Regions from separate parts of the Homo sapiens genome. Here regions 1 and 2 are each linked to region 3. Evidence: fine-mapped expression QTL. A gene starts in region 3. Each other region holds a variant in brackets. All regions are shown on one strand. Distances are from middle to middle.

What was found. PIP is the estimated chance that this variant, and not a neighbour inherited with it, causes the effect.
Region 1: its variant is the best candidate, but not a certain one, in a credible set for the expression of AGO2 in whole blood (INTERVAL, PIP 0.78).
Region 2: its variant is the best candidate, but not a certain one, in a credible set for the expression of AGO2 in iPS cells (iPSCORE, PIP 0.68).

Annotation. Positions count from the first base shown.
Region 1 is chr8:140,610,609-140,614,710 of GRCh38, forward strand. The region is part of intron 1 of AGO2 (argonaute RISC catalytic component 2); the gene reads right to left. LOC107986982 (MAGE-like protein 2) reads right to left here. Exons shown (of 2, transcript XM_017014159.2): 2 at 1,641-4,102. Among named protein-coding and RNA genes, the nearest start is that of ERICD, 22 kb to the right of the region's middle. The variant T/C (reference allele first, on the strand shown) is at 2,183.
Region 2 is chr8:140,534,253-140,538,354 of GRCh38, forward strand. AGO2 (argonaute RISC catalytic component 2) reads right to left here. Exons shown (of 19, transcript NM_012154.5): 17 at 1,216-1,317. Among named protein-coding and RNA genes, the nearest start is that of CHRAC1, 25 kb to the left of the region's middle. The variant T/C (reference allele first, on the strand shown) is at 2,251.
Region 3 is chr8:140,633,656-140,637,757 of GRCh38, forward strand. AGO2 (argonaute RISC catalytic component 2) reads right to left here and starts at 1,978. Exons shown (of 19, transcript NM_012154.5): 1 at 1,830-1,978. The coding sequence starts at 1,851. It overlaps ERICD (E2F1-regulated inhibitor of cell death), which reads left to right and starts at 580. Exons shown (of 1, transcript NR_170171.1): 1 at 580-4,102. RefSeq lists enhancers at 1-216, 217-983 and silencers at 790-839, 1,323-1,492, 2,143-2,542.

The sequences.
Region 1 (4,102 bases), 23 kb before region 3:
GCGGCCTATTTTCACCATGAGCAGGGAGCCCGGCTCCCATACCCACAGCCCAAAAGAGAACACGGGCCCAGCCTAGGCTGGTTCCTGAAGGCGACAGGCCCCTGGGCCCCACTGTCTCTGCACCAGAGGGGTTGGGAGCCCCTGTCCTGCCCATGGCCAACCCCCCCATATGCTCAAAGCAACAGTCCATCCAAAGACTTTGAAAAAAACACACAGTCCCCCAAATCTCTCACAGACTCAGCCAGGCGGCCACTCCATGCAGATGAGATTTTAGATTCCAAATCAGATGCTCTTCTTGGGTGGTTTTATTCAAACATGTGTGTAAATCATGATACAATTTAATTAAAGTGGAACATCTCTCCGAAACACTCTGGGATTAAGTAGACACGCGCGCATGCAGATCATTCGAGAGTTAAACAGAACAGGAGTTAGGAGTCTTCTGACTTAGCGGTTCTCTAAGTGTGGTCCGGGGAGCTTCAGGGAGGTCCCCAGGGCCAGAGCGGCTTGTGTTTTCCCTGTGCTGACATTTGCTCCGGTGGCTAAGGTGAAACTGCAGGTGCATCTGCACAGTGCAAGGCGGCGATGGCAGGCAGTACCCTCAGACGCTGGACTCACCACCACAGCACGTGCACAGCACGGGGACGAAGCCAGCCTACCTTAAAACTCCTGCAGAAAGCAGCAAAAAGCATCAAGTTTATTCCACATTGACTCTTAAGCCTTTGTTTTTTTTTTTTCTTGATATGGAGACTCGCTCTGTTGCCCAGGCTGGAGTACAGTGGCACGATCTCAATTCACTGCAACCTCTGCCTCCCAGGTTGAAGCGATTCTCCTCCCTCAGCCTCCCAAGTAGCTGGGATTACAGGCGCCCACCACCACACCGGGCTAATTTTTGTATTTTTAGTAGAGACGAGGTTTCACCATGTTGGCCAGGCTGGTCTCAAACTCCTGACCTCAGGTGATCCGCCCACCTCGGCCTCCCAAAGTGCTGGGATTACAGGCGTGAGCCACTGTGCCTGGCCGTGCCTGGTCTCTTAAGCCTTTTGAATGTTCTGTATGAGGAAGTGGGGGGTGCACATACCCACATACCCCTAAGTGTGAGGCTACCCCAAGGAGAGGCACTTGAGTGTGGCCTTTCGAGCTGTGACCTCGAGTAGGGTGCCGGGCAGATGTCTTCTCCAAGCAGACCTAGTGACCTGCACTTCAAAGAAAATGGCTGATGGTGTCTGTTGCAATCGTAAAATTCAAGCTTTAACATAAAAATTATAATCGTGGAAAACATATTCACCACCATGAGCTTCAAGCTTCCAAATACTTAAAAGACTTCTGGTGAGTTCGACCGGGCGCGGTGGCTCACGCCTGTAATCCCAGCACTTTGGGAGGCCGAGGCGGGCGATCACGAGGTCAGGAGATCGAGACCATCCTGGCTAACACGGTGAAACCCCGTCTCTACTAAAAATACAAAAAATTAGCCGGGAGCAGTGGCGGGCGCCTGTCGTCCCAGCTACTCGGGAGGCTGAGGCAGGAGAATCGCTTGAACCTGAGAGGCGGAGGTTGCAGTGAGCTGAGATTGTGCCACTGCACTCCGGCCTGGCCAAGAGCGAGACTCTGTCTCAAAAAAAAAAAAAAAAAAAAAAAAAAAAAAAAAAAAAAAGACTTCTGGTTAGTTCAGCAGTGTTCGTGAATGGGATGTTTTGATGATCTGTGTGATTAAATGTGTCACTGCTGGAAGGCCCGTGTAACTCTGTGAGCTAGTGTGTTCCAAATGCCTGGTGCATGATGGACAAAACACATGGGAGACAGGATCCATTCGGGCTGCAGTTCTACAGCTGCGGATTCTACACTGCACCTGACTTTCAAGAAACTATTGCTTTTTCTGGCTGGGTGTGGTGGCTCACGCCTGTAATCTCAGCACTTTGGGAGGCTGAGGTAGGTGGATCACACGAGGAGTTTGAGACCAGCTTGGCCAACATGGTGAAACCCCATCTCTGCTATAAATATAAAATTAGCCGGGTGTGGTGGCTGTAATCCCAGCTACTCGGAGGTTGAGGCAGGAGAATCGCTTGAACCCAGGAGGCGGAGGTTGCAGTGAGCCGAGACTGCGCCACTGCACTCCAGCCTGGGCAACAAGACCCAAAAAACTCGGTCTCAAAAAAAACAAAATGAAACTACTGTTTTTCGAGTT[T/C]TGGTGTAGTAGCAACAAATACCCATAATTATCTGAAAAGGCTACAACAACAACCCTCCCTTCCAGCTACATAGCTGCATGAGGCCAGATTTTTTTTTTTATACTTCAACCAAAACAACATATCCCTGGCCAGGCATGGTGGCTCGCGTCTTTAATCCCAGCACTTTGGGAGGCCGAGGTGGGCAGATCACGAGGTCAGGAGATCGACACCATCCTGGCTAACACGGTGAAACCCCGTCTCCACTAAAAATACAAAATAATTAGCCAGGTGTGGTGGCAGACGCCCGTAGTCCCAGCTACTCGGGAGGCTGAGGCAGGAGAATGGCGTGAACCCGGGAGGCGGAGCTTGCAGTGAGCCGAGATAGCGCCACTGCACTCCAGCCTGGGCGACAGAGCAAGACTCCGTCTCAAAAAACAACAGCAACAAAAAACAAAAAAACCCCAACATATCCCTGTCGACAGAATGCAGAAGCCAGCTGATGCTTTCTATTAAGGCAGACCTTAAGGAGATTTAGGAAAAATGTAAAACTACGCCACTCTTCTCATTATATTTTGTTTTAGAAGAAATTATCTTTCATAAAAACATTTATATGAATACATATTTAATATAATGACATGTTGTTGTATCAAATGTTTTTTAAACTCCTGTTTTAATTTGTAATACAACAGATATAACCCACATAAACAAATGGTCTTCGGGGTTCTCAATAACTTAAGAATGTAAAGAGGTCCCAACCAAAAACAGCTGAAGAGCTGCCGTCTGAATGTCCCTTTCCAGGAGTGGATTGTCATCTAGAGTATTTTCTTAAAAACACAGCAGCCCTGCCTGAGGTTTCTTCAGGAATAACGGTAATACTGGCAGAATCGGCGACAAATGGAACTCTATCCACAAGACCACTGCAGAAATTCGGGTCTGGTTTCTATCACACTATAAAGAACAGCTGGCCAGGCATGGTAGCTCACACCTATAATCCCAGCACTTAGGGAAGCCGAGGCAGGAGGGTCACTTGACCCCTGGGGCTTGAGACCAGCCTGGGCAACACAGAGAGACCTCGTCTCCACAACAAAAATTTTTAAAGTAGCCGGATGTAGTGGTGCATGCCTGTGATCCCAGCTACTCAGGAGGCTGAAGTGAGATCGCTTGAGTGCAGGAGGTTGAAACTGCAGTGAACCATGATCATCCCCAACGCACTCCAGCCTGGGCAACAGAGCAAGACCCTGTCTCAAAAAAAAAAAAAAAAAAAAAAAAAGGCCAGACACGGTGGCTCACGCCTGTAATTCCAGCACTTTGGGAGGCCAAGGCGGGCGGATCATCTCTCAGGTCAGGAGTTCAAGACCATCCTGGCTAACATGGTGAAACCCTGTCTCTACTAAAAATACAAAATTAACTGGGCGTGGCGTGTGCTTGTAGTAGTCCCAGCTACTCGGGAGGCAGAGGCAGGAGAACTGCTTGAAACCGGGAGGTAGAGGTTGCAGTGAGCCGAGATCGTGCCACTGCACTCCAGCCTAGGAGACAGAGTGAGACTCCGTCTCAAAACAAAACAAAAGCAAAGGCAGGACTCAAGTCAATATTCATTTATTCAAAACAGTGTCCTAAGAAAAACACATTAAACCAATTCTTTAATGAAAACACTGGGAAATCCAAACCCACTAAATTCTGAGCCAATCTTTTCCTTTGATTCCCTAATGAAGTTTGCTCTATTTCAGAGAGGTCCCCTAAAAGTCCTGCACGTTTGCATAATTATGGCAAAGGAATGCAAGCTACTCTCCTCATGTCTTCAGCAACCTGTTGCAGTGACAATGCAGCCCACACTCTACTAAGGCGTCCTTCCGGGCCTGGGGTCCAACAACCAGACCAGGAGCCACACGAGTCAAGGTTCTAGAACCTGGAGGCACCACCAGGTCTGAATCCAGGATCCA
Region 2 (4,102 bases), 99 kb before region 3:
GCTCACCAGAGAAGCATCCCCCGTTAGAAAGATTTTGGGTAGAAAGTTCAGGGAGAAGAGTTTGCCCAGGAAACATGCCCAGGAGGCCCTGGTGGGTGAGGCTCCCCGACTAGAAGGGAAGACTGAACAGAGGGCACACGCAGGCAGGGCATGGCCCCAGGCCCATCTCACCAGCCCTGGCAAAGCAAGCCAACACTGGGACAGGCACTTTGCACCAGGAAGTGCCACAAACCCTGCACGCACTCCATCGCCTGCTTCTCAACAACCCTTCAAACAGCAAAACCCACTCTCAGCTCCCGGGCTGCAGGCTGGACCCGGCCCACAGGCCACGGTTCCCTAGCCCCCATTCCTTCTCTGTCAGGCATGTGAACAATGTGACATTTTAAAATATTTCCAATGGAATATTAAAGGTACGTACAAAGTTCATAGCAAATCCTCAAACTCTAGGGTTCAAATCCTTTAGGAAGGGATATTCAAGTCCTTACTTATACTTTGAAAAACCAAAAGCCCCTCTGATCAAGCTCTCTGCAGGCAGGGACGGCACGTGACTAAGGTTCCTCCTGTCCCCCGGGCGAGGCTCTGCAGAGCTGGGGAGGGGCAGCTCCTACCACGGACGTGGTGCTCCTGCTCCTGTCAGTGCTCCCAAGAATCGCCTTGGGTCAGATGGGGGTCCCCTCATGAAGGAACCCAGGAGAGCCTCAAGGTGGTAACCAACACCATGGCCACCTTCTCTGAGCACCCAGTCCTTGGCTGGAGCCTGGCCCTGGCCAGTGATTGCGCGAGGGGACGGCAAGGCTGACTGCGCCAAGTGCTCGTGAATCGACGCCAAGTCTGCCCCATGCGGCCCCTGCAGCAGCTGCCCAGTGGCCTTCCAGCTTCCACCCCATGGCAGCCCCAGCGCCTCAATCCTGCTCAGACCTCACCAAGCTCCAGCCACACCACACCCCTGGCTCCCCAAGGCCCTTGGTGCTCCCTGCTCCTCAGCCCTACCAAATGGGACTTCCTTTTTCTGGGAGGCTCATGCTGACCCACCCCCCAGGCCCCTCTCCCCACCCCAGCGCCTGGCACAGCCTGGGCTCCCCGGTTCCCTGGTACTGCCTGTGTGGGCCCCTCACACCACATCCCACGTGCCAGCCAGAGTGCAAGTGTTTGCTGAATGTGGGGATGACACGGCAGACGGCCAAGACTCTGTCCGAAGGGGACTCCCGGCCTTACCTGGATGCCAGCGTGACTACACAGGTAGAAGTCGAACTCGGTGGGGTGGGTGATTTTCGTGTCCACAGTCGTGCCTGCTGGAATGTTTCCACTTTTCCCAACCTTCGGCAACACAGGCATCTCGTTAGACACGGCCAGGGACCGGCAGAGCCAAGCAGGCGGGCCAGGCAGCCGCGCCGCCCGCTGGCCAGGGTGCCCTATTTTGAAGTTTTTAAATTGGCTAATACAGGTCCTCGGTAGGATAGTGTTACATAAAATTTAACAACTGCTGACCACCAGGTTAAATGAATTAATGTTCCATGTGGGCTGGGGTTATTTTCCGCCAACTCTCATGAAGGCCCATGAGTTAAATGCAGTCTTTTCACTGCAGAACGTGCCTCTGATGCCTTAAGAGTCCCTCGATACTGTTGGTGCTATTTTGATTTGAGGTCAAGATGGAAACTGTCACCAACGTACACATCTAAAGCTAAACCAGGTGACTGGCTGCGGACAAGCCATCATCCAAGCACAAGCACACCGGCGCTCCAGGCAGAGGCGCTGGGAGGCTCTGAACGCTGTCAGGAGTGCCTGTGCTTTGCCGGTAGCTTGCGCCCAGCACCTGAGAGAGCAGGGCGGCTCCATCAGAGACTGTCCCAGAGGCCAGGGGCGGTACATATAACCATTCAATGGTTTAATTACAAGGTCACAAGCATGGACCAAAAAGTCAGCCAAGATGCAGGCATGGCCACGCCAGCAGCAAACCCCCACCCCACAAGCCCTGCTCCAGCATTTAGCAAGGTCCCTGATGAATGTTTTCTAGTTGTACACATTTTAAATATACATACAAAAAAGAATCTCCAGTGTGTTCCCTTCTTTGCAATTTTTTTTTTTTTTTTTTGAGATGGAGTCTTGCTTTGCCACCCAGGCTGGAGCACAATGGCGCAGTCTCGGCTCACTGCAACCTCTGCCTCCCAGGTTCAAGCGATTCTCCTGCCTCGGCCTCCCGAGTGGCTGGGACTACAGGCATGTGCCACCACGGCCGGCTAATTTTTGTAT[T/C]TTTAGTAGAGACGGGGTTTCACTATGTTGGTCAGGCTGGTCTTGAACTCCTGACCTCATGATCTGCCTGCCTCGGCCTCCCAAAGTGCTGGGATTACAGGCATGAGCCAGCGCATCCGGCCCTAATATCTCTTTTCAAAGTAGGTTTGGATTTTGTTCATCTGCTTTATTTCTTCTTCAGTTTCTACCTCAATTATTTTCCATTCTAGGATGGAGAAGTGGCGTGTAGGTGTCACCAGGAGCAAGCTGACTTCCGAGCCCTCCTGCCTCCTGGCAACAGAGATCTGGGGGCTGCAGCGGGGAGGAAGGGGGACAGGGGAAGACACCCAAGGCCATGAGTGCCTCAGCCTTCCCTTGACTCCTGGGGACTGAGGTCTCTTATTCCCATCCTTCCTATGTCTTTAGGCTTCTTTTATGGCCCTCTTTCTTGTTGTACAACAAATTCATCTGAATCTACAGACGGCACTGTTTCAGCTGCATTGCATAAGGCTTGACAGGACATTCTCGATTGTGTTAGCTTCTGAGTACTTTGTGATTTCTATTCTTGTTACATGTTTAATGCATGAGCTACTCAGCAGTGAATTGAAAGTTGAAAACATTCTTCCACTTCGTTTCTACTGTTGATTTAAAATTTAATTGTATAATGATTTAAAAAATATGGCTTGAGACTGAAGTTTGGAAAGCTCCCGAGACTTCCTTTGTCCTGGTAGAACTTTTATAACCCTTCCGTGTGAACTCAGCTATTTGTAGGGAAGATTCTATCTAGCTATTAGACCTGGCTTGGCTTGTTCATTTCACTCTTCCAATTTTCAGGGTTTCTTTTCTTTTTTTTTTTTTAAGACAGGTCGGAGTGCAGTGGTGCAATCACAGCTCATTGCAGCCTCAGCCTCCTGAGCTCAAGTAAGTCTCCTGCCTCAGCCTCCTGAGTAGCTGGGACCATAGGCGTATGCTACCATACACAACTAATTTTTAAATTTCTTTTCGAGATGGGGTTTCACTTTGTTGCTCAGGCTAGTCTTGAACTCTTGGACTAATACGATCCACCTACCTTGGCCTCCCAAAGTGGTGGGATTACAGGCGTGAGTCACTACGCCTGGCCCCAATTTTTTTTCCTTAGTTTTTCATTTTTGTCTGGAAACAGTATAATAAGAGCTGTGTAAAAATATCCACCTTTGATGGCGTGTTCATCAATTTCTCCTTAAAATGCTGTTAGTTTTTGCTTTACTTTTTTTTTCTTTACATAATTTGGTGTTAGGTACATTCAAGCTCATTAGTTGCTGTATCTTTTTGGTGAATCATTCTACTTATTTATTTTTGGGTATTGTTTTTCTTTTTTGAGATAGTCTCACTCTGCCCCCCAGGCGGGAGTGCAGTAGCAAAATGTTGGCTCACTGCAACCTCTGCCTCCCAGGTTTAAGCAATTCTCTTGCCTCAGCCTCCCGAGTACCTGGGACTACAGGCGCCCGCCACCACGCCTGGGTAATTTTATGTATTTTTAGTAGAGATGGGGTTTCGCCATGTTGGCCAGGCTGGTCTCGGTCTCCTGACCTCAGGTGACCCACCTGCCTCGGCCTCCCAAAGTGCCAGGATTACAGGCGTGAGCCACCGTGCCTGGCCTGGTGAATGATTCCTTTTACTGTGATAAAATATCCTTTTTCCTCACTGTGATGCTTAACTTCTGTTTCACCTTCCATTTGCACAGTAAACCTTCCCTGTGTCCTTGCACAGCCGTGCCTGTAGGGAGTCTAACACTCTGAAGTATTCTTTCCTGGGTGCCAAGTAGATGATAACCCTCTGCCTTCCGGTCCTCCCTTGACCAGGTCAAGGTCTCCTGGTTCAGTCCAAGGCCTCC
Region 3 (4,102 bases):
TCCAGCCCTAACAGAGACTTCTTACTGTGGGTCTGGGTTATAGGGCTTGAAAGGGACTGCCCTGAGGAAGGCACCCAGAGAACCAGCTCGGAAGTCGGACCGATTGTCCTGATACTCACTCACTGCTGTGTGACCTTGGTGAAGTTCTCAACCTCTGTGAGCCTCGGCTGTCTGTCTTCACAAACACCACCAACCTCAGCAAGTGGAGTGAATTAAGTAACACGCAAAACACAACACAGAAAGCTTGACCTTCCTTAAAGCCTCTTCACTTTTTCTGGGCCTCCAACTTTTAAAACCGATAACCTGAAAAAATGTAGTGCTGTCAGTCCCATAAGCTGGGTTCCTCTACAAAGAGGAGCTGGAAGGTCCCAACTCACAAGGGGATGCCCGGTCCTTTCCCAAGAGGGGGCCTGGCCACCCAAGGCCTCTAGAGGCCAGCACCTGCTCCAGGACTGCGGCCCCTCCCAGGTGGAGGGGGAAAATCATTCTTCAAACTGCTGATGGCCCTCAGGGGTTGAAAAGTTGGTCAGACTCCGCCTTGTTGAAGCTTTCTAAATGACATCAGAAAAAAGACGCGACATTCGCAAGGCACAGAGCCAACAGCTCCAGCAGTGGGGGCCACCATCAACGGACCAAGGTGGGCCAGGGGGCCTTCCGGACCCCACAATTTGGGGCCGGTCTGCAGCAACGAGGGCAGCATCGGGAATGCGAGCCTCCTCGCCCGGCCGGGTAAACATAAGCCCAGAGCCCGGCGGGGCCTGCGCCGCCTGCGGCCCGGCTGGGGCCCAGCGGACAAAGGGGAGCAGGCGGTGCCCCGTCCCAGCGGCCAGGCCGGCCGAGAGAGCCAGGAGCCACGTGCCCGGTGGGAGCACGCCAAAAGCAGGAGAACACCTGACCGTTTTTTTGGCCCACCAAGGAGACCGCCTTCTACTCTGCATTTAAAAAGAAAAACAACGCGTTACCGCTTTAAGTTTTTTAGAACTTTTCCAGAGAAAGGCCGACTAGCAACAAGGGGTGCTACAGGAATCCACCTCGCCTCACCTCTCCTAGGAAATTGTAAAAGGAATTAGCACTTGAATGGGGAGGCCGGCGTGTCTGGAATGAGAACGAGCCGCGCACGCAGTTTGAGGGTTCCGGGGAGCCGCGTCCTCCCCTTTCCAGGCGACAGCCCTAACTACAGGAATTGGCCAAAATTCAGCATTTCCAGACTTTCCTTGGGAAAAGGGGCCGAAGAAGTGCCGGCAACAAGAAGGGCCACAACGGAGCGCGCCACAGACTCACCGCGGCTGGGGTCGGGACCGGCGCAGCCCCCTCCCCTCCCGCCCGTGCGCGCCCCGAGCCGGGCGCCCCGACCCGGCCTCCACCCGCTCAGGCGCTCAGGGTCAGGCCGGGCCGGGCTGCGGCGCCCCCATCCCCGCCCGGGCAGCGAGGCCGGGCCAAGCGGGGCGCTCCGGGCCTCGGGCCTACACGCGGCGGCCGCCTCGGCCCCGGCCCCAGCCCGCGGGCCCCGGGCGGGGGATGCGAGGACGCTGGGACGCGGGCCCGAGGCGCGGGAGGGGCCCAGGCCGCGCGGGGCGCCCCGACGACTCGCGGGGGCCGAGGAGGCCGGGGCTGCGCGTCCAACGCGGGGCCGAGAAAACGGCCGGCTCGGCCCCGCCGCCGCCGCTCCTCGAGCCCCCAAGCGCGGCCCCGGCTCGCCCGCCCCCGGCCCCCGCCGCCCCGACCCCGCGGCCCCCCGATCCCCGGCCCCTGCCGCCCGCGCCGGGCCCGCCAACCACGGGCAGGAGCGCGCGAACGGCCGGGCGGGCGCCCCGAGCGCCAGGACTCACCGGGGCCGGCTCCCGAGTACATGGTGGCGCCGCCGAGGGGCTCCGGGGCCGAGGGGCGGCCGCGCGCGCGCCACGGGCCCCGACGCCGCGAGCCGCGAGGGAGCCGCCGGCCGCACGATCCGCCCCGGCGCGGCCGCCTCGCCAAACAGGTTTACCCGACGCGGCCGGGGCGGCGGGCGGAGGCGGCGGCGGGAGCGGGAGCGGGAGGGGCGGGGGAGGAAGGAGGAGGGAGGGGGAGGGGAGGCGAGGCCGGCGGCGGGAGCGCGCTCGCGGGGGGAGCGGGGCTGGGCGCGCGGGCGGGGTCCGCGGCGGCGGCGGCGGCGGCGCCGGGTCTGGCGGGGCCTGGGGCGGGGACCCGGGGAGGGGCCCGGAGACCTCGCCGGGCGGTGGGAACCGCGGGCGGGAGCGGGGACGAGGGCCGAGGGCGGCGCGGCCCGTGTGGCGCGGGGGCGGGCGCGGCCCCGGGGACCCTTCACTGCCACCCAGAGAAGCCGCGTCTTCCCGACGGGGAGGAGCCGGGCCCCCCGGCTGTGCCGCCGGAGCCGGAGGGGAGGCCACGCGCCCCCGCTTTCCCCGCCGCCCCCCGGTGGGGGGCGCAGAACCCTCCCACCCTCAGCCCCTCGGCCCCCAGCCTGGCTCTTTAAGTTACTACAGAAACACGGAGGTCGGGAAGCTCCCTCCCAGCCCGGAGCTTGAACTTGAACGCGGCCGGCCGCTCGCGCAGGACCACACCGCCACCTCCCGGCGCGGCCCCAGAACCCAGATAATCCGTTTAAAGCACTGAGAAAATCTAAGAAGTTTTTAGTAAACTGTAGCTGGTATCAGGGATCAGATCAGCGGACACGCCCATTCCAGCAGTCAGGGGCCTGCTCGGACCGTCGTGCACCTCCGAGCGTTTCTGTCCGGTCCCTCTGGGTCCGTCTGGTTTTCGGAGGCTTTCCTGGAAAAGCCAGCCTGTGGCTACCTCCTTTCTCCCCTAAGTGATGGAGGATTAGAAGGCAGAGGTTGACCCACAATCTAAAGTGCCTGGTCGCCTTTTCCCAGATTTCCCGGAGCATTCCTTCACCCCGTGGCATCGGCTGTCTGCATATGGGTGCAAGGCCCTGTTCCGGGCGGAGAATAAACAGGAGTTCTGACTGACAGGAGCTCCGCAGCCAGCAGGGTGGTCACTAGTTCTCTGCAGTCTCGGAGGACAGCCCTGAAGAAGGGCAGGAGAACCAGCACTTCCTCCGAAAACTCAAAAGGACATCAGTCTTCACCAAGTTGCCGATACAAAACGTGCTCCTGAAATGTGTAGTAATGAACACCAGGAAACCTGGGTAGGAGTGTGCATGGCATTCTTCATCACCGCTTGGACTGCATGGCACTGAATACCCACGGAGAGCAGGATGGAGAAACAGTGTGCTCATATTCACAGGATGGAATCTAGCCATTCACAAAAATTCCAAAACAGGCAAAATTAAACTGCATTCTTTAGGGAAGCATCATTAAGTAGTAAATAATTGACAGAAGGGCAAGAAGGTGCTTACTCTAAGTGTCAGAATGGTGGATACAGCTGGGGGTGAGAGGGCTGTGACCACAGCAGGGCCCCTGGGGGATTTGGGGGTGCCAGGCCTGTTCCTTCCTGCAATGGTGCCCTTTGGCAGCCATCCCTTAAACTGCACTTTTACTTTATATGCTTTTCTGTACCTTTACTGTAGTATTTCACGGAAATTTTTAAATAATCATGAATGTTACCACTTTCCTATTTATGAACCATGCAACCTCATCAATCTTCCCAGTTCGCAGATGCCCACCCTCTCTCTCTGCCCCTGTCTCCTTCACATATCCCCAAAACTCGTTTTGGCCCGAAATCCCTGAGGCCCAACTGCCCTGCTGTCAGCGACTGCACGCCTCAGCAAAGGCCCAGAAGGCTCTGTCATCACTGGCTGCCCTCAGCCCGCCTTCAGCTCCTTTGAGCGCTGTGTTGGGGAACTTTGTTGCAAGGATTTCGTTCCAGAAGGCAAGATAATGTCTCTGAGGGCTTCATTGTGTCACTTCTCTTTGGATGGCGGACACCGTGGCCCTCTGCTGGCGGAGGGGTGCCATTGCTGCCTGCCCCATCTCTATCCCCAGGGCCCATGCAGTCACTGGGTTCGCCCTCTGGGGCACGGGGTTCCCTCTGCTCTTTTCCTAGATAAGCCCATTCTCTGCAGGTCTCTACCCTCCACACCTGTGTTCAGGAATTCAGCCCGCTTCCTGCAGCCCCATCCCTACCCTCCTCCCAACCTGCT